2 separate regions of the Homo sapiens genome follow, and region 1 is linked to region 2. Evidence: fine-mapped expression QTL. Tissue or cell type: whole blood. Region 2 holds a variant in brackets; the other region holds the start of a gene. Each region is shown on its reference strand, or each on the opposite one.

What was found.
Region 1: MTA2 starts here. The variant in region 2 is fine-mapped to the expression of MTA2 in whole blood (TOPMed, PIP above 0.99).

What each region holds. Positions count from the first base shown.
Region 1 is chr11:62,597,146-62,607,438 of GRCh38, reverse strand. It overlaps MTA2 (metastasis associated 1 family member 2), which reads left to right and starts at 5,574. Exons shown (of 18, transcript NM_004739.4): 1 at 5,574-6,016; 2 at 6,750-6,817; 3 at 7,180-7,273; 4 at 8,800-8,917; 5 at 9,049-9,112; 6 at 9,298-9,415; 7 at 9,727-9,829; 8 at 10,024-10,123. The coding sequence starts at 5,989. It overlaps EML3 (EMAP like 3), which reads left to right. Exons shown (of 22, transcript NM_153265.3): 12 at 340-481; 13 at 1,225-1,376; 14 at 1,459-1,584; 15 at 1,666-1,797; 16 at 2,259-2,326; 17 at 3,238-3,326; 18 at 3,398-3,495; 19 at 3,623-3,710; 20 at 4,192-4,290; 21 at 4,550-4,680; 22 at 4,761-5,221. The coding sequence ends at 4,964. RefSeq lists enhancers at 3,861-4,570, 5,079-5,128, 6,509-6,558, 5,993-6,703, 8,297-8,436 and silencers at 5,879-5,928, 5,999-6,098, 6,179-6,258.
Region 2 is chr3:126,437,254-126,447,546 of GRCh38, reverse strand. ZXDC (ZXD family zinc finger C) reads left to right here. Exons shown (of 10, transcript NM_025112.5): 8 at 5,601-5,782; 9 at 7,820-7,915; 10 at 9,086-9,946. The coding sequence ends at 9,172. Among named protein-coding and RNA genes, the nearest start is that of ZXDC, 33 kb to the left of the region's middle. RefSeq lists an enhancer at 5,669-6,304. The variant G/A (reference allele first, on the strand shown) is at 5,789.

The DNA of each region.
Region 1 (10,293 bases), not on the chromosome of region 2:
CAGCCTCCCGGAGTAGCTGGGATTACAGATGCGCGCCGGCTGATTTTTGTATTTTTAATAGAGATACGGTTTCATCATGTTGGCCATCATGCCCGTTTTTTTTTTGTTTTTTTTGTTTTTGAGACAGTGCCTTGCTCTATCACCCAGGCTGGAGTGCAGTGCGGGATTTCACCATATTGGCCAGGCTGGTCACAAACTCCTGGCCTCAGGTGACCCGCCCGCCTTGGCCTCCCAAAGTGCTGGGATTACAGGCATGAGCCACTGCACCTGGCCTGCCCTGCGACTTTTAATCTTTGCCCTTCCCTTTGACCTCTACTGTCTGCTCTCCCCTCCCACTAGAAATACAAGAAACCCAAGTTTATCCCTTGCTTTGTGTTCCTTCCGGATGGAGACATTCTCACTGGAGACTCAGAGGGGAACATTCTCACCTGGGGGCGGAGCCCTTCAGATTCCAAGACCCCAGGCAGGGGTGGCGCCAAAGGTATGTGGCTGGGAGGGGCATCTGGGAAGTGTAGTACTCCAGAGGTTCTGTGGGAACAGAGGAGAGGGTTTCCCATTCCCATCTTTTTTTTTTTTTTTTTTGAGATGAGGTCTTACTCTGTTGCCCAGGCTGGATTGCAGTGGCGCGATCTTGGTTCACTGCAACCTCTGCCTTCCAGGTTCAAGTGATCCTCCTTCCTCAGTCTCCCAAGTAGCTGGAAGTACAGGCACACGCCACCACGCCCAGCTAATTTTTGTATTTTTAGTAGAGATGGGGTTTTGCCATGTTGGCCAGGCTGGTCTCGAATTCCTGACCTCAGGTGATCCGCCCGCCTTGGCCTCCCAAAGTGCTGGGATTACAGGCGTGAGCCACGGCGCCCAGCCAGGTTTCCCACCTTTTTACCTTGAGAGTTGATAGTTCTCTTGGGGGCTAGTCTAGAAGCGTGTGGGCAGCACAGCAAAGGAGAAACGGCTGGAGCTTTGTGTTTGCCAGATCTCAGGTTCAGATTCCAGTTTTGCTATTAGTTGCCTTGCCTTTAGGAAGTTACCTCATTTCTGTGAGTCTCAGTTGTCCTGTTTGTAAAATGGGGAGAATAACAGATGTGTTGGCAGTATGAGGATGAGACATAGTAGTCAGTGCATGCAATGGCTGGGAGTTCTTACTGTATTGCGACAGCCAAGCTGGCCCTGTTTCTCACTCCCCTGCACCCCCAAAACATGATCTACCTGGGGCTTTGCCAACAGAGACCTATGGGATTGTGGCCCAGGCTCACGCTCATGAAGGTTCTATCTTCGCCTTGTGTCTCCGGAGGGACGGGACAGTGCTGAGTGGTGGCGGGCGGGACCGCCGGCTGGTACAGTGGGGGCCCGGGTTGGTGGCCCTCCAGGAGGCTGAGGTGAGGGCTGGGCTGGGGTCAAGGGAGTGAGGGAGAAGAGCAATAGTCAGTGGGCTCTTGACATTCTGCTACCACTCTGCAGATTCCCGAGCACTTCGGGGCCGTGCGAGCCATTGCTGAAGGGCTTGGCTCTGAGCTGCTGGTGGGAACCACGAAGAATGCATTGCTGAGGGGAGACCTGGCCCAGGGCTTCTCCCCTGTAATCCAGGTTGGGGGTTAAGGGCTCAGGGGAGGAAGGGACAAAGGGGTGTGAGAGAGGGGCAGGAGTGACAGTCATGCTGTGCTGCAGGGCCACACTGATGAGCTCTGGGGGCTCTGCACACACCCCTCCCAGAACCGCTTCCTCACCTGCGGCCACGACCGGCAGCTCTGCCTGTGGGATGGGGAGAGCCATGCACTGGCCTGGAGCATCGACCTCAAGGTAGAGCCCTGTGCCCCTGGATCCCCCATGCCACACCCACCAGGACACCTGTGGCCACCACGCCTTCCCCAGCACCTTGCCTTCTGCCTCCCAGAGGTGGCCAGTTTGTACTGGTATGGCTGCACTGGCTACTCAAATATTAATTTTTCTGTACTGACTGGTAAAAGCTGATGCTTCTAGTACCACCTGGGCACTCCCTGCCGCCCCCAGAACCCCTCAGACTTCCTCTTGATCCAGCACCTAAATGGTTAATCTCCAGCACAGCTATTGGCATCAGTTCTGTGGTTAAATATTTTGGTATCACTCCCTGTTCAGGCTCCAGTGATACCCGGGTATCCCTTCCCTCTCTTCCCATCTTCTCCTTGGGAGTAAGTGGCTTTGAAGTTAGGAGGACAAGGGGTTCACTCTGGTTCCCTCACTAGAAAGACATCATCTTGAATTCACCTTCTCCCCTCTCCCAGGAGACTGGTCTCTGTGCTGACTTCCACCCGAGTGGGGCAGTTGTGGCCGTAGGACTGAACACGGGGAGGTGAGAGAGAGCCAGGACTCCCAGGAGGGAAAGCAGGGAGGACTGGGAAGGGTTCCTGGTACTGGGGGAGTGGGCGAGAGTGACCACCTCTACCCAGGAGCCACCTGCGCCTTGGCACTCCTCTGTGCCTCTCCCTGCAGCCCCTGCCACCCGGGCTCCCCTCCTCTTCTGTGGTAACTGTTTCTCCCCCTCCCCCAACCCAGTGTCTCCTCCAAGCCTGGGAGTGGAGGAGGCAGCAGCCCAGGATAGAGAAACAGTGGGAATGGGAGGGGCATAGACAAACACAGGGAAGTGACAGGCTTCCAGCTTGCACAGTGCCTTTGTAGTCGGCCCCTGGTCTGTAGTTTCAGATTACTTTTTCAGACGACATCAGAAGCCCCTCAGCCTTTATCCACACTTAGCTCCTTCCCATTTCTCAGCATAAGAATGCAGTGGTGGCCAGGTGCGGTGGCTCACGCCTGTAATCCTAGCGCTTTGGGAGCTGAGGCGGGTGGATCACTTGAGGTCAGGAGTTCAAGACCAGCCTGGCCAACATGGTGAAACCTCGTCTCCACTAAAAATACAAAAATTAGACGGGCATGGTGGTACGCACCTGTAATTCTAGCTACTCAGGAGGCTGAGGCATGAGAATCACTTGAACCCAGGAGGTGGAGGTTGCGTTGAGATCTTGCCACTGCACTCCAGCCTGGGTGACAGAGTGAGACTCTGTCTCAAAACAACAACAACAACAACAACAAACTAAAAAAGAAGAATGCAGTTGTGACCTGTCTTCTACATCAGAGCCTTTCTGTGTGTGTCTCTGAGCTTCTCTTATTTGCCATCCCCAAGCCTACCCAGGGTGGCCTCCCTGGGGGTCTCCTTACATCCTGCCTTTTCGTCTTCCTATCTGCCTCCACTTCCCTCCCTTCCAGGTGGTTGGTTTTGGACACAGAGACCAGAGAGATCGTGTCTGATGTCATTGATGGCAATGAGCAGCTCTCAGTGGTCCGGTACAGCCCAGGTGGGAGCCACCCCAACCCTGGACTCACATGCGTCCCTGGCCCTTCCCTCTCTGAGTGACTGTATTTGCAGATGGGTTGTACCTGGCCATTGGTTCCCATGACAACGTGATCTACATCTATAGTGTTTCCAGTGATGGTGCCAAATCCAGCCGCTTTGGCCGCTGTATGGTGAGGAAGTTGGGGTGTGTGGTGGGGCATGATAACAGCTGCGAAACTCAGGGGTCTGATGCATCAAGGGGGCTCTGGGGATGGGAAATGGATGGGATACTTTAAAACTCTTGACCTTTGCTCCCAGGGTCACTCCAGCTTCATCACTCATCTTGACTGGTCCAAGGATGGGAATTTCATCATGTCCAATTCTGGGGACTATGAGATTCTTTACTGTGAGTGGCAGTGGAGCAGGACATGGGGAGAGGGTAATTGGAGTGGGTTTTGTGTAGGGGGGGCTGTTAGAGGTGTTGTTAGATAAGGAAGTGGAGATGGGGTTAAAGTGGAGTTGGAATTATATGTAGGAGAAATTTCGTGATTTGGAAACAACTAGTTTCACACCATGTCTTGTTGACTTGAGGGAGTTCAAAAATGCGCTAAGAAAAGATTGTTTGGGAAAAGTTTCTCAGGGCAAGTGTGGAGCACTTGACTTATCTAGGGAGGAGGAACTCGTGGAAGCTGTTAGAACTTCAGCCAGAGCTCAGGACAGGACGCACACAGGGTGGGTTTCACAGGGGGAGGAGGTGATGCTACTACGGTGACCAGATCACATGCCATCGCCGGGTTTCATGCCAGTCTTTCCAGTCTGGCTTTCCCTGGCATCTTCCCTACTGAGGGCAGGGTGAGAGCTGAGCTGGGCGGGCTCCCTCTCCCCAGGGGACGTGGCTGGAGGCTGCAAGCAGCTGAAGAATCGCTATGAGAGCCGAGACCGGGAATGGGCTACCTACACCTGTGTGCTGGGCTTTCACGTCTACGGTGAGCAGGGGCGTGGAAACCTGCTGGAAGGGTGGGGGACAAGGTGGAGCCCAGTTTGGGCTTGGAACGCTGGGCGTGTGTCGTTGGGTGAGAGTCCAGAAACCTGAAGATCCAGCCCAGGAGGCCCCTCGGGACCGGGAAGGCTTGCCTGGAACGCGGCAGTGGGTGGCCGCGGCTGCCGGAGCGCCTGAAATGGTGTAGCTCTGGGCCGTGGGTGGCGGTGGGTAGGAGGTCGGGCTGAGGCCGGCCGCTGTGCTAGGCGTCTGGCCGGACGGCTCCGATGGGACCGACATCAACTCCCTGTGCCGCTCCCACAACGAGCGCGTGGTGGCGGTGGCCGACGACTTCTGCAAAGTGCATCTCTTCCAGTACCCGTGCGCTCGTGCCAAGGTGAGGCCGCGGGGATCGCCGGGGTGGGACCGGTGGGCCCGAGGGCTCAGCCGCCACCGCAACTCTTCCCTCCGGCCCAGGCGCCGAGCCGCATGTACGGGGGCCACGGCAGCCACGTGACCAGCGTCCGATTCACGCACGACGACTCGCACCTCGTCTCGCTGGGCGGCAAGGACGCCAGCATCTTCCAGTGGCGAGTGCTGGGCGCTGGGGGCGCGGGGCCGGCGCCCGCCACGCCCTCTCGAACCCCCTCCCTGTCCCCCGCCTCCTCCCTCGACGTTTGATCGCTGCCTGGCGGGACCGACTGGCCCGGCGGCGTGGCCCCGCCCCGCCCTGCCCTTCCCTGGCCCAATCCCCCACGACTAGGGGCCGACTCTTTCCTGGACTGACTTCGAGACATTCCCGATCGCGCATTTTCCTGGAGGGCGCGAACGGCGCCCCTGCACACACTGTTTAGACCCGCTGGCTGAGCCGGGCAGCCCCAGCCTAGGCCTTGACTCCCGCTGCCTGCTGAGGGGCAATAAACCAGAACCAAAGTCGCCTCCCGGTGCTTTTGTGGGGCGCTGCCGGGCGCCTCCGGGGCTCTGTGGGGTGGGGACGAAGGAAAAGAGGCGTGCGGAAAGGGTAAGGGAGCGTAGACCATTTATGCAAATGACAGGCAAAGCCGCTTGCAAATAACCTGGCGAAGCGCTAAGGCGCGCGAGTCTTTGGGGCGCGAGGAGGAGCTGCAGGGCTCCAGCGAGGACAGAGTTAAGCCCGACTCCTCTCCCGCCCTCGGAAAAGGGGGTGGGGCCGAGCTGCGACGGAAATAGCCGAGCGGTTGCCCGACAGGAGCCGAACTTCTTCCGGAAGTAGCCGATCTGCGGGGTCTCGCTCTCCGACCTGAGCCGAGCAGTGGGCCTTGTTCTCCGGATCGGCCGAAGGTGTTCCGGAAGGAGGCGAACCCTGAGGCGGGCCCGGCAAGCCTTCCCTGCGGCCGGCAGAGCCCAACGACTAGTGGGACTCCGCGGGGGCGGGGGTAGCTGGAGCCTGGCTCTGGCCTGGCAGGAGCCGAGCTCGTTCCGGAAGAAGCCGAGCGGACGGGGGCCAGCCTCAGCGTCCCGGGAGTGAGGCGATAGCTGCGGCGGCGACAGCGCGGGCCGGGATGAACCGCGACGGCTGAGGCAGCGGAGGTGCCGGCTGCGCGGGCCCCAGTGAGACTCCCTCGAAGCGGCAGCCCACCGTTCGGGGCTTTGCCTCGAGCCGAGCCCTGCCCCCGCGAGCCTCCCGGACCCCTTTGTGCGGCCGGAGGCGGCGGCGGGAACGGCCATGGCGGCCAACATGTACCGGGTGGGAGGTGAGTACCGGGCGCAGGGATACGGGGCCCGGGGCGGGAGAGGTTGGGGTAGGGACCTGAGGGGCTCGGCACCGGGTGGCGCGAGGCGCAGCGTATGGGGCAGCGTGGACCGGAGCGCGGACCGGAACCGGAACCGGGAGACGAGGAGAGAGGGTGCGGGGAACCGCGACGCGGCAGGGCTCCGAGACTCCCAGAGAGAAGCTGCGGGCAGCCCCGACGGCACTTTCGGGGCTGCGTCAGGGGCTCCCCGGGGCACGGAGTGGCCTTCGGAACCGGTTCCGAAGGAGCTGACAGGGTAGGGAGGGAACGCGAGGGGCTGGGGCGACGGCTTTGCCACCGCGGGGGAGCCGCCCGGAGGTTTCCTCTTCCCAGGCGTTATTGTGCGCCTCGATTCGAAAAGGTAGGGGCCCTGCGCTAGAGCGGACAATTACTTCGCCGCGACTGGGGTGCAACTCATCGCTGAGTTGTGGGGACTGCAGGGGAACCCCTGCTTCTTGCCTGTTCCTTAAGGCTCTCTTTTGAGTAAAGGATCTAATTTTAGAACTAGGTGCGGTGGGGATGGGGGACATCCTTATTTTCTCTTAGTCTGTCCACTTTCACATCTCAGCGCCCTTTCTACCTGAATCCTTATCTCCTTTTGATCCACTCAGGCCAACTTTCTCTCCTACCCTGGTGCTCTGCGTCTCCCATCTCCTCTGATCTTCGTGGTTCTCCCCCCTCCCTTCCCTTACAGATTACGTCTATTTTGAGAACTCTTCCAGCAATCCTTACCTGGTTAGACGGATTGAGGAGCTCAACAAGGTGAGTGGAGCAGAATCCCTCTCCCTCCCTCCCGCAGTGGTCTCTTCTGAGGTTTCTAACTTCTGGTGGAAGAGAGGATCCTATACTAAGTACCCATTCATATTCGTTCATTCATTCATTGGATGTATTCAGGAAAGGCTATTGAGAGGTTAGCAGGAACTTTACTATTCTGTCTCTTGGGGGCAAAGGAAAGGGATTTGGAAGTCTATCCTTGAATGTAAGTCTTTACTCATATTTTCTTGGGCTTTTTAATTTAGGTCCCTCTGAAACTTACTGTTATTTGTCTCTTTGTGCATTTCTGTTCCCAGATGATCAATTTCCACTGCTACGTTGTTTTGTTTTTGTTTTTTTCCTCCCCTTAGACTGCAAATGGAAATGTGGAGGCAAAGGTTGTCTGTCTTTTCCGGCGCAGGGACATTTCTAGTAGCCTCAACAGCCTGGCTGATAGTAATGCCAGTGAGTATCTTCCTCCCTTTCTTTTTCTCCTACCCATGATCTGAGGCCTGGGCATGTCCCTGCAGGTATTTCCCCTGGTAGCATGCCCAAGGCAGAGGTGTGAGTTTGGGGGTGGGAAATGCCTGGCCTGAGGAGGGAGGCCTGTTTTTACATGTTGGGGTTGGAAGCAGGGTGGAGAGATTGTGATAAGGAAAGCGATAATATGGTTTGTATATGAGAGTAAGAGAGAGATGATAACATTTAGAGTATGAGGACGAGCTTTAGAGAAACAATGGTTTTCTAAAGGGGGGCAGTTTGGGGTACATTGAGACAGTAGGTGATGACTGAAGGTCAACGTGAAGAGGAAGACATTGTACTGAGAAGCCTGCGTAACAGAGAAGCAGGCTTATTTTGTAATCACAAGGTGATGAGAGTACCTGGAAGTTAGAAGATGGCTGGAAGTTTTCTTGCGCTTTTTAATTTCTCACCTCGCCCATTTCCCCGCCCGCCCCCCTCCATTTTACATCTTTCCCTTTTCATTTTGCCCTATCTTCATTCTCTTTAAGGTCTCATCTTCTTTTTTTAAAAAACATATTTTCCTTAGCTTCTTTTTCCTTTCCTGCTTTGGTTTTCTTTTTCCTTCCTTTTGTTCCACCTTTCTAAATTATTTTCCTTTTTCAGACTGCTCTGGGTGAGAAGGGGTTAAAGAGGAGCCCAGCTTACCAAGTTCCTTGGCCCTTTAGGGTTTCCAGCCCCATCTGGCAGGGGCTGACCTTGGCCTTGTCCAATCAGAAGGGGTGTTGGGGGTGTGGTCCCCCTTGCCTCAGCACAGGGTTTCCGGAGCACACAAGCGAGGGGTGGAGCCTACTGCACAACCCCCCCCTTCTCCCTGAGGTTGGGAACAATACACCAATGAGCCTGGGGCTGAGGTTCTTCTGCTCCCTCCCACTTTGGTTGGCGCCTAGCCAGGTTAACCCCTTCCGCTAGGTTTCAGGGCAAGCTGCAGCTCCTTGGGGAGGAAGGTGTTGGCACTGGCTTGAGAGGTGTTGTCCTTGGAAACCCCAGGAACTATTATTAGCCAAGTAGAAAATGAGGGATAGTTAGGGCTGCATGTGATGTTTTAGAGCAAAGAGTCTCCTGAAATTGAAAAGAACTGGTAAACACAGTCTTGTGTGATATTTTTTCATCTTGAGTTCCTGGACCTCAGGCTGGTTTAGCAAGCAAGAGACAAGTGTGATGTTCTTGCTGGCCCGTTGTGGACTTTGGTGTCTGAGTACTGGCAGCTGGGTAGCGATGTATTTCTAGAGCATTCTTCGTACTCTCAGCAGTTCTTCTCTAAAAGCATTACTGATAGAGTTGGGAGCATCTATGATGGGGCATAGAGCTAAGAAGGAAAGCTGGTGGGATAAGGGTATAGAAGGCAGACGCCTGGGAAATGTGAGAAAAAAACAGCCAAGATAGGAAATATTTTCCCTGAGTTAGAGTTTCCAGGGTGGTGTTTTGCTGGATCCATTTCTGACTTGGTTTCTTCCTCTTTAATCTCCCAGGGGAGTTTGAAGAGGAATCAAAGCAGCCAGGGGTGTCTGAGCAGCAGCGCCATCAACTGAAGCACCGGGAACTTTTTCTTTCTCGGCAATTTGAATCATTACCAGCCACCCACATACGGTACAGGACAACTGGGGCCAGCATAGCCTGCGTGCACTTACGTAGAAGATGGAGAGAAGGAGGTGGTATTGAGAGATGCTGTGGGGAGGGAGAGTGGGGCTCACCGGGGTTTTCCAATCTCTCTCCTATAGGGGGAAATGCAGTGTGACCCTCTTGAATGAGACAGATATCTTGAGCCAGTACCTGGAAAAGGAGGTGAGAAAGAGATGTTGAGAGAAGAGCGAGGGGAATGGGTATTGCCCGCAAAAGAGAGGGGGAAAGGAGCACAATGATGAGGTACAGGGTTGCCAGACTGCCGGTCATGGAAACTCAGATACACCTCCCTCCCCGCCGCCTATGTGGATTGCTGCCTTGCTTACCTTGTCTCTCCCCAATTCCAGGACTGCTTTTTTTACTCACTGGTGTTTGACCCCGTGCAGAAGACACTTCTCGCTGATCAGGGCGAGATTAGAGTTGGTTGCAAATACCAAGCTGAGATCCCAGATCGCCTAGTAGAGGGTAAGCAACAGGACAAGACTGTACGGCTACCAGGTTGTCTAATTCCAAGGGGCACTTTAACATTATAGTCTCTGTGAATGGCGTCACCTGGGGTTGTGCAGTGCACTGTCTGCAGGGCTCTCTGCCATGACCCTGACAGAATGGGCCTGTAGGAACCTGAAAAGGGAAAATGGGAACAGTTGGGAAGAGAAGTCGGAGAGTTGATAGAATCCAAGCAGAAGAAGAGAAGGAGGAGGTGCTATTGTGAATGAAAAGACACCAACTGTTCCCCCCTGCCCTCTCCCTGTTGATGCCATTGTTCTTTTCCCCAGGAGAATCTGATAATCGGAACCAGCAGAAGATGGAGATGAAGGTCTGGGACCCAGACAACCCTCTCACAGACCGGCAGATCGACCAGTTTCTTGTGGTGGCCCGGTGAGGGGTGGGTGGATAGGGAAGATGGGCTGGGGGAGGTGTGGACATTGTTCTGAGTCCCATGGTTCTTAGAGATGGACTTTATTTCTTTCATTGCCATGGATGTTTTCCTTCTTTCTCCTTTGGCTTAATTTCCCAGCCCACTTGGGCTTTTGACTTTTCTTTCGCTTTTGACTTCTCAATTTCTCCCTTAGAGCTGTGGGAACCTTTGCAAGAGCCCTAGATTGTAGCAGCTCCATTCGGCAGCCAAGCTTGCACATGAGTGCAGCTGCTGCCTCCCGAGATATCACTCTGGTGAGCAGAAGTTGGTGGGTAGTTGGGCAGGCTGGGTTTTCTGGGGACTTGCAGAGCCTGGGAACAGAAGAGGAGGGTATCTCTGAGGGAGTGGGAGTGTTTTTTTTTTGTTTGTTTTGTTTTGTTTTGAGAGGAGTCTTGCTCTGTCGCCCAGGCTGGAGTGCAGTGGC
Region 2 (10,293 bases):
ATTTTTAAAGAAGCAGAATCAAATAGAAAGGAGAGAATGATGATTACTTAATGACAAAGTCATTGTCAGGCTTAGAAAACCCAGGGGAATCAACTCAAGCAATTAGAAATAAGAAGGATCAATAGATAGCTAATTGCACAGTACATATTTGTATATATAAAATTAATAGATTTTCCAATAAGAATAATTGTGAAAAACTGACCTTATTCATAATGACAGTAAAAGTAATAAAATATGCCAGGCTCACTCATGACAAGTGTGCTCTGAATGGGTAAGGTCCTGTGTAGGGTCTGCCAGCTAGAGATGCCCAATTCTTGTTCACTTACATACTTTATTCAGTTCCTGTAAAATCCCAGAGTAACTTAAACACCTGTCTACTTTAAGTTCATCTGGGAAGGTAGCTTGGTGAGAATACCCATGAAGGCTGTGAGATGGGAGGAGGCAGTCGGGTACTCAGGGCCTGCCAGATGCCCTGGAGGAGAGAGTGCCCCTGCAGAACAAAGGACCTGTCGTGTGAGCAGCACATCCCTAAGCAAAGGGTGAGCACTCAGCACAGGCAGGGCTGGTCATGTGGGTTTACTCTGGAAGAGATCATTGTGGGTTCCTTATGCTTTCTCCCCTGTAGCTTCACCACCCAAGAAAAACTACTTACAGTGTTTCAGTGTTAAACTGAATGAAACCTACACAAATGTGAAATCTGAAACCTACACAAATGACTTGTTTTTGAAAAATGATAAACATTTTTATCTGCTTTTTGTTCTTAATATGAATATTTTTCCTTGTGGATAAGTATATTAACATATTATATCTTTATAAGAGCTGTGTTGAACTAACCATGTCAGGGACCTAGTGAGTTAAGCCCCAGTGACCTCTGATCTTCCACCCTTGGGAGAATTGGGAAAATAGTCACTTACCTCCTGTTCAAGTGAGGATCTCAGTAGAGGAAGCTCGCATGACCCCCTGTGGTTATCAAGGGAGGGGCCTGAGCCTCATCTGTGCAGATCCTTTCTCGGGGCACCTGGCTGGCTCTGAACTCTGTCCTGTGGCAGGCACTGCGGTGCTACTGGTGTGGGGATGGCATGCTGTTTGAGCCAGGCCCAGTGCTGTTGACCTCACCTAATTCTCGTCATGGCACGGTGAGGTGAAAGCAGTGTGGCCATCTCCATTCACCGCAGATGATGGGAGCTGAGTCACATAGCTGGATCGTCCAGCTCCCAAGCCGGGGCCCTTGACCACTTTGCTATTTACCATCATACCTAGATAGGACTCTTCCTTAAGGAGTCCTTCCTTGCTTCCCAGGAGGTTGCTTGGTGTTGGATTTATACTGCTCCTCTCCCCACTCCTGCAGATTCTCCAGCACAAGCAAGCATTTTGGATAATGATTGAAAATATTGAAGCAAAATGTAGTTCGGTGTTGTTACCTTGTTCTATAAGGGTTTGTGGTTGTCCATTGTGAGAGAGGAATTTGATTTTTCTTGTGACTGCTTTATTAATTAAATTGATCATATTGCATTTGATGCCATGGCGCCCTTTACTAGTGAGGACCCAGGGCTTCATGGTTATCGTGAGGACGTGGTGTGGACCCCATTTGTTTGCTTTGGCATGTCCTTAAGCATCCCTAGATAAACATACTTGCTTAGTTAACCCAGGAAGTTTATGATTAACTTTCAGCCATCTTAAATGTTCACGACATACCACCAGACTTCAGGGTGTACCGTCAGGGATTCTAGGACAGAACACCCTGCTCAGGCCTGGGGGACAACTCAGCAACTGGGGCTTGGCCCCTCCTCCCCTGGCTGCCCTGTTCTCTCACAGCTGTTGGCCTGGACCCCTGCATCCTTTCCAGGTTCATCTTCCAGGTGCAGTCCTTGCTGGAACGGACTCTCTGAGAAGGGGTGTCCGAGCTCATCTGTGGCAGGTTCTCCCCCTCACCCACAGCTGTCCTTCTGCTTGCCAAAAAACGGGGAGGCTGCAACTCTCCACCAGACTTCTACTGCAGTGTGTTGCCTTGGAGTGCACACAAAAACAGGATATCCTTCCAGAGCACCAAACCCAGGGGCAGTTCCAAATACTGGTTTCAGGGAAGCATCCTGTAGAATAATACCGACATTAAAACTTTAATGAGCCGGGCTTGCCAGCTTACCCTTCCTGTGCAGAGATGTGTCTAGGGGTGGACGCTGAGATGTTCTGCTTGAGGTACATCAGAGAGGGGATGTGGGGCATGGATGGACATCTCTCGTAGAAAGTCCTCACCTTTGCCAGCCCTCTGCTGTTGTCAAAGAATGTATTACTTTTCAGGAATGAGCCCTATGTATGTATAAGCGTGAGCAATTCTTTTCAGCTATTGACTTTTTATCCCTAGACGAGTTGTTAGCTGGGAAGAAAAATACCTTCTGATGCAAATTAGTGGTGGTGTTTCTTCTCAGTGTAACTGGTGTCTACAGGACTACCTGAGACACTGAATTAAATGTGCGGATTGAAAAGAAATTCCTGTGATTTTTTTTCATATTGTATGCTGATACAGAAGTTGAAACCAATTTAGCTTGTCATGAGATATTCTCGTTACAGCCTATCTTTTTTCCTGTTGTAAAAGTAATACAAGTAAATTGTTAATAAAGATAGAATCATTTTAGTTACTGGTTTAGGTATAAAAGGAAAGTGTAACCATGTCTAGCAACATTAGTGGAATTATTTCTGATTTTGCACCCAATTCTGATTTTCCCATGATTCGAATGGCACATACATTCTAGCACACATTTTGCAAAGGAATATTAGGATTCAGTCATATTTCTTGCTTTGTAGGTAACTTAGAGCGTGGCGTACACATTTGGCATTGAATCATGATGAATGGCTCAGTTTTATCTTGTTTATGTTATAAAACTTGATAATAAATACTTGATATACATCATTTAAAATCTTGCCTGCTTTTAAAAGAAATCTGGAGAGATACACTATTCACTGCCTGCCTTAATTTATTCTACAGTGGTTTTCATATTATTATTATTTTTTTTTTTTGAGAGGGAGTCTCGCTCTGTCACCCAGGCTGGAGTGCAGTGGCATGATCTCGGCTCACTGCAAGCTCTGCCTCCTGGGTTCATGCCATTCTCCTGCCTCAGCCTCCCGAGTAGCTGGGACTACAGGCACCCGCCACCACCACTGGCTAATTTTTTGTATTTTTAGTAGAGACGAGGTTTCACCGTGTTAGCCAGGATGGTCTCGATCTCCTGACCTTGTAATCTGCCCGCCTTGGCCTCCCAAAGCGCTGGGATTACAGGCGTGAGCCACTGCGCCCGGCCAATATTTCTAATATAATAACATGTTTCAGTATTTTTATTTGAATTTAAAAATGAAGCCAGGCCTTTTATTAGAAAGCAAGCGTAATGCGACTGTTCTGGCTGCAGCACCGGCCCTGCTGCTGGGGCTTCGTGGGCAGGCAGTTCCCCCTCACTTGAATAAACTCAACCTGCAGCTGCAAAGTTGTGATGACACATGAGCATCTTATTTTAAAAAAGTTTTTAATTGACAAGAATAGATGCTGACCATGTCTAATTCTAGCAAGAAGTAATATTTAGACACAAATACATGAACTAACTGGGGAAGAAAACCACCAGTCAGTCCCACTCCTCTTGAAAAGCATTTTTAATATAATTTTGCTTTTAATATCATAATTATCTATCAAAGTTTCTGATATATTTTGTTTTGATTTGTTTTGCATTACTAATAATTGCAGTTGTAACAGTTCAAACCAAAAATGTTAATGCCTAGAAGTTAAATAAAAGTTAAGTTTATGTACATATTTTTATATGCTAGGGTGATAAAAGACTTGAAAGCATAGAAATGCATTCAGGTAAAATTCTGGAGGTAAGTGGGATAGTATACAAGCTCACGGAGGATATAGGCACGCTTCATTTTTTGCAGTTGACTTTTTTTTTGCTTTTTACAAATTGAAGGTTTGTGGCAAACCTGTATCCAGCAAGTCTGTTGGCACCATTTTTCCAACAGCATGTTCTCACTTCATGTCTATGTCGGTATTTGTTAGCAATAAAGTATTTTTAAATTAAGGTATGCATTGTTTTAGACATAATGTTATTGCAGACTTAATAGACTGCAGTACTAGGAACTGATGTGAAGTTTCCTCAAGGAGGGGTGAGTAAGTTTTGTGCCCCAGGCACCTCTCTTGCCCCAGACCCAGCCCTGCTCTTCTGTCTGAAGCAAGTAGAGCAATTAGAAAAAGAGAAACCAGGCGTGGAGAACAGTCAGAGATGATCCAGAGCGAGGGTTGCTGGGTTTTCTGGAACACTGATGGATGAACAGAAAGGAAGTATTTTGTAATGGAAGTGCATCTCCCTGCAGTGAGGGGGAACTGAATCTGTGTTACCCAGAAACCTCCTGGTTAGCATTTGCACTTCAAAGAAAAAGAGCCCTGAGGCACCCAGAAAAGACAGCAGGCTGTGCCTAAGTACAGAGGACCCAAGGTTTGTGCACCCAGTTGGCTTGCCTGCTGAGTGTGAAGCTCTCCGGGACCCAGGGCACTGCGGAAGACAGGAAGGGATCTGGAGTGAGGTGAGCAGGTCAGGGAGACAGCATATGCAGGGCAAGTCAGCTCTCACCCCATGGGCTGCTCAGAACCTTCCTGTCAAACAGCCTCGTAAAAACAGCCTGCCTTGGGCAGCAGGGTCACCCAATTGAATACTTTTATTAGGAATAACTTATATGATAGTCATTGTACAGTTGTTTTTTTGAAGCCGTTCATAGCTGGATCCCACACATCCAGGCAGGGATGTGTGGGCAGAGCAGTGACAGTGCCTAAACTCCTTGGCACTCGCCAGTCACTGTTCTAAGTTTTGATCACATATTTCCTATGAAATCCTCTCCAAAACCTTCCGAGGTTGGGACTAGCATTCCCATTTTACAGGTAGATAATGCTGAGGCCCAGAGCTTGAGTTCCTTTTCCAGATCCCTGGAGCAGAGTGGGTGGCGGGTCAGGGTGAGCCTAGCCGGGGTCTCTGCAGTGCACGCTCTAGGCTACCTTTGGGCCCTTTTGAAGCAGCTCTTGGGTTTGTTATGGGTGTTAAGATTTTTTCTTTTTTCTTTGTGCTTTACTTCATTTCTTAAGAAGCACATATTTGTAAAACCCATGGAGTAGTGACTTGGAAAGGAGCTGGACAGAGGCAGCAGTCCACCCACAGGTGGGGTATGGAGACCGCCCGCTTCCTTCCTATTCCATGATGCTGTGGCTCTGGGCTGTTGGCTGTCCTCAGTTGCGCTTGGGATTCCTGCCAGCCAGCAGCTGCTGGAGTTAGAGGATTCTGCTCTCCAAGAATTTGCAGCTTGTGTCTGATTACCGTACCGTCTGGCAAAAAAATACGTATGATGTTTTTACATTTTTAAAATCAAAATCCTGATGTTTTTTTGTTCGTATGGTTGTTTGTTTCAACCTCTTAACTCTTGATTTTTTCTGTTAAGTGATTTTACGTCTCTTAGCTGTGCAGAATGACAATTAATGGGAAGGCTGTCTTCCCCATAGTGAGACCTTGGTAAGGGCAGACCTGACTGGTAGATTGTAGATTGGGTGTGCTCGTTTTTATATTTCATTTTAGGAGCCTCACAGTCTACTCAGAGAAAAATAAAAGAAGGCAAAATGAGTCCTCCCCATTTCCATGCAAGCCAGAACAGTTGGTTGTGTGGGAGCCTCGTGGTGCCCAGCGGAGGACGGCCAGGACCAGCTCCAGCAGCTGGGGTGCAGTGCGGGGCGCAGGGCGTCCAGGTCCAGCTGGTGCAGGTGAGA[G/A]CTGGCCAGTCACACAGGCCAGCTGTAGGCGGGGTGGGAGGGTCACGCAGGTCTGAGCAGTGTGCGGCATGCTGCATCCCCTGCCCATCGCAGCACCCCCTGCCTGCCTGCCCCTCGTGCATCCTCCCCTGTAGACTGCCCCAAGTCCTGTCTCCTCACAGCCCAGCTCCTCCCTTTTTCCCAGCCTGTCCTGCATCTGCTCAAGCTCTGAGTGTTGCTGGGACCGTGCATCCACTTCCTGAACCTGTCTGTGCACAGCCCTGCGTCTAGCCCCAGAGTAGCCCGCCTCCCTGCCCGAGGCCCCCAGGGCTGTTTTGCAGCAGGATGAGATCTGTTTGAGGCCACCCTGCCCTTCTTCTGCAGGGCTGGGGCAAAAGGGCTCCGCAGGCCGTCTCAGCCACCCCATTTCTAGGGCGGCCTGCTTGTGGCGCACTAGCAGCCTTTCTATGCTGAAGGTGGTGGGGGTCTTTTCAGTGTTTTTCTATTTTCTTTCCTACGAAACAGAGCCCCTCCAGGGCAGGCCCAGGCCCCTCCCAGCCTGTCCGGGCCACAGATACCTGCAGCTGTGGCCAGTTTCCAGGAGGTCTTTGAGCACACCTGCTTCAGCAGCCCTGAGCACACCTGCATCTTCAGTCTCAGTTTGAGGGGCTGGAATGGGGAGGGAAGATGATTTGGAAGGATTTGGGGAGAGAAGAGATATACAAGCCGGGGCTGTCTGGGTTTGGCCCAGGTGTGTGCCCCTCTTCACCACTCCACTTTGTAGATTCCCTGTGGCAGGGGATGCGGTTGCAGGCCCCACGGAAGTGCGGAGGGTGGAGGTGACGCTGGCTCTGAGTTGGGAAACAGGCACGTTTGTGGGTTCAGAGTCCTGGGAGAGTCTCGCCAAGGAAACAGGACCAGGCCTGGGGCTCAGAGAGGCAAGAGGAGGGGCAGCCTGGGCAGAGGTGGGCTGGGAAGGGGGCAGGGAAGAGGCTGCGGGCAGCTGGGGGTGGCCCTGTGCTGGTTGGAAGCTAGCGGTGAGCGTCAGATGGGGGCTGAAGCTTGTCTTAGAGAGGGGCAGGAGCACTGGTCCTTTGTTTCCAGCTTCTGAAGAGGTAAGAACTCCCCAGGAGCAGGGGCAGGGGGAGGGGGAGGACCATCCAAGGAAACACTGCCTCAGCTGGCAGGGCAGAGGTACAGAGTCAGGACCAGAGGCTTGGCAATAGGGAGACGGTAGGGAAGCTGGTGCCACCGGCAGAACAGGAGCAAGTAGGGGGTATACTTTTAAGAGATGCCTGATTAAACCTGGGTTTGAGTTCTTTTTCTGTCCCTTACCAGCTAGCGTAGTCTTGGTTACTTAAGCACTCCGGGCCTCAGTTTTGTCATCTATGAAATGGGAACAGTAGTGCAGACCTTGACACACAGGAGCTTCTCAAACAGAAGGAATGAGAGGTGCAGAGCAGCAGCACCAGGAGCTCCGCTTCGGGGTGTGAATGGCCATGGGCGGACATGCAGGTGCAGGACAGGCGAAGTGTGGGACAGATGAAGTTTCTAGCCTGGACTGTGAGGGGCCTGGCAGCCTCCCCTCTCAGGAGCCCCTCTACCTGCCCTGGTCCTTCCAGCTGGCCCGTAGGCAAGCTGGGGCATGCAGGGAAGGCCCTCTGTGGGGCCCGAGGATTTGCTGGAGAGCACTCTGGGTACACAAGGTTGGTGGGGGTACAGGGCGTGCCAGGGCACCTGCAAGGAGTTGAGGAGCGTGCCTTAGGAGGGAAATCAGTATTTGGGCTGACTGAGGGGAGGAGCTGGAGAGCAGAAGGTTCCAGGCCCAGCAAAAGCTGCTGGGATCAAGGTGACAGAATGAGAACCAGGTGGGAACAGGTAGTACCCAGCCCCCATAAACAATTCCTGCTGGGTCCTCGGGCCTCCCTTGGAATACAGGGGGTGGGCTGGTTCTGCCACGCATTGCAGCTGGAGGAGACTTCTCAGGTGAGACGAGGACCTTTGCTGCACTCTCACAGACATGTGACAGGCCTTTCTGTGTTGCCTTCCCAGGATGACCCCTCCGGCGAAGGTGTCCTGCCCTCGGCCCGCGGCCCAGCCACCTTCCTCCCCTTCCTCACTGTGGACCTGCCCGTCTACGTCCTCCAGGTCTGGATGCCTTACTGCCCTTTGTTTTTCTTATTGAGACTCGCAGAGCCTTCGACTTCCAGAAGCCTGGCTTCACAGCTGCAGGCTGGTCACTGAGGCCGCGTGGCTTGGGAGGCTCAGTGGGTTGGTTGCCAGGATGTCTTGCTGCCTTCTGGAGAAGGTGGGTGAGTGGAGCTCAGATCTGCAGGACGCTGCAGCTCCTGCTGGTAGACAAAGCAGGAGAAGTTAATATGCTCTTGAAAGTGTTGTGCCTAGGAATTCCAGTTAATTCTCTGGGAAGAGGGCTGGCCAGGGCCCAGCCTGTGGGAGAATAGACTCGGATGAATTCAGTAGTTTGCTTACGTGGTTAAGCTAAGGATGGGTGGCAGTGAATGATTCAGAGTTTGATATGAAATAGCGAAAGCGTATAGCTTATCACATTTCTAACAGTTTGCCTTACGTGTTTATATATTTACAATAAGCCATGCAAATTGTGTTTTAGTTTTTTTGCATTCAAATTGGGCTATTCAGCATTTCCCTCGCAATCAAAACCAAACTTGGACAGAAGCACTGGTGGGAGCAGAGGGCCGGGCACCCAGGCTGCAGAGGGGTGAGCTGGAGGGCGGTTTGGCAGCATGGATCAGAGAACTTCAGAAGTGTCTGCTCCATCCTGCCTGGCAGCCCCCTCCTGGGACTGCTCCTGAAAAAATAAGGTAGTGACATAATCACCGTAGCCCGGAGTCAAATGGTGCAACAGCAGGAACACTTCTTGTAGCAGGAGGAGACAGGCTAGATGGGGCCTCCATAGCCCTGGGCCACATCCTGGTCAGCTGTGAGGGCACAGGCGGACGGACACCTAATACCTGGGAGAGTGCTCACCGCGTGAGAAGTGCGGAGAAAGGGTTGCAGAAGTAAAGATGATTTTGTTTCTGTAAAAAGGCATATGGGTATATGAACATGTGAGGGTATACGTCAATGTGCAGACAGAACAATCTTGAAAAATTTACAGTACAGTATTGAGTTCATTTTTCATCAAAGAACATGTGTTTAGAATAAGGGGAGCCTGTAGTTTTGAGTAAGAGAAGTCAGGTATCTCACCACGGGCCTGGTCAGTGTCCTGCTGTGTGGAGCCACAGGATCCCTCTGCCTCCCCTCCCTCCTCCCTCTTCATGACAATGCTTGGTTTTGCAGGAGGTGCTCCCCTCATCTGGAGGCCCTGCTGGACCGGAGGCCACCCAGTTCCCAGGAAGCACTATCAACCTGCAGGATCTGCAGTGACGGCAGCCTCGGCCTGGGCAGGCCCAAGGCCACGGTCTAGGACACACCTTCCCTGAGACTCATGACATGAGCCTGGGGAGACCTCATTTGGTTTCCGTTCAGAAGACCAGCGTAGCCCTTTTGAGACTTTTGGGTACATTTATCAAAAATGTTTTCCTTTTGTTTTACCAGGAATGAGTTCGGGCTATACTCTTTGAAACTGCCTTTGTGAGCAAAGTGCTTTGGCAAGGCAAGGGTCTCCCTCAGCAGGGCTAGGTGCACTACAGCCTCTTTCCCCGTGTCCCGTTGGATCTGAGCTGTGTAGCACTTGTTGCATTACAAAGAAAAAGACTTCTGCAGGAAATAGGGTAGAGAACAGGCTGTCTAGTCAGATGCAGCTTGATCTGTGGCAAAACCAAGTGTGGTCTTTCAGCTTCAGTGTGTTAGCATCCCAGCACCTGGGATGGGGTTTGTGGGCAAGTTGATTTTGCCACACTGTAGGGCCCAGGTGGTCCCATTGCCACCGTGAAGCCAAATTCTAGCCCAAGTCTGGTAGAGCAGTCGGGCAGCTAGTTTTCGGGGGAGGATGATGTGGTGGGACAGAGGACCTCAGTGGCCTATTACGGAGCCCTCTTCCCAGACTAAATTCATAGCCGAGAGCTCGGGGGGATGGTAGAGTTAAAATTTAAAATAATTTTCTAAATTCTGTATTTGGATATTAGTGTTTAAGTGGTAATTTGGCAACAGTTTATAAAGTGATGTTCTGAATACCATAAATTATGTGTAGGACTGTGATGGCGCGTGTATGTTTTATTATTGAGGTTGATGTGCACATAATACGTCAGTGTATATTTTTACCGAGTGAGGTCTGTCTTGTAAAAGGAGACAAGGTGATCACCTTGCCCATGTTTATTTGTAAGTCTGTCAACTTAGCAATGACACAGGGTCACTCCTAAATGACTTTTTTTTTTTTTTTTGCCTTGTGCCTTTTGAAGTATGTGTTCATTCAGAGGCTGTTTTGATTCTCAGACTGAATCATTCAAACTCTGCCCTGTGTTTGTTTCTTGAATTTGGGGGTGACATCAAGTTTGAGTGAGTCCTCCCTCTGTCTTGTCTCACTCTGAGGTGCTGTCCCCAGGTGC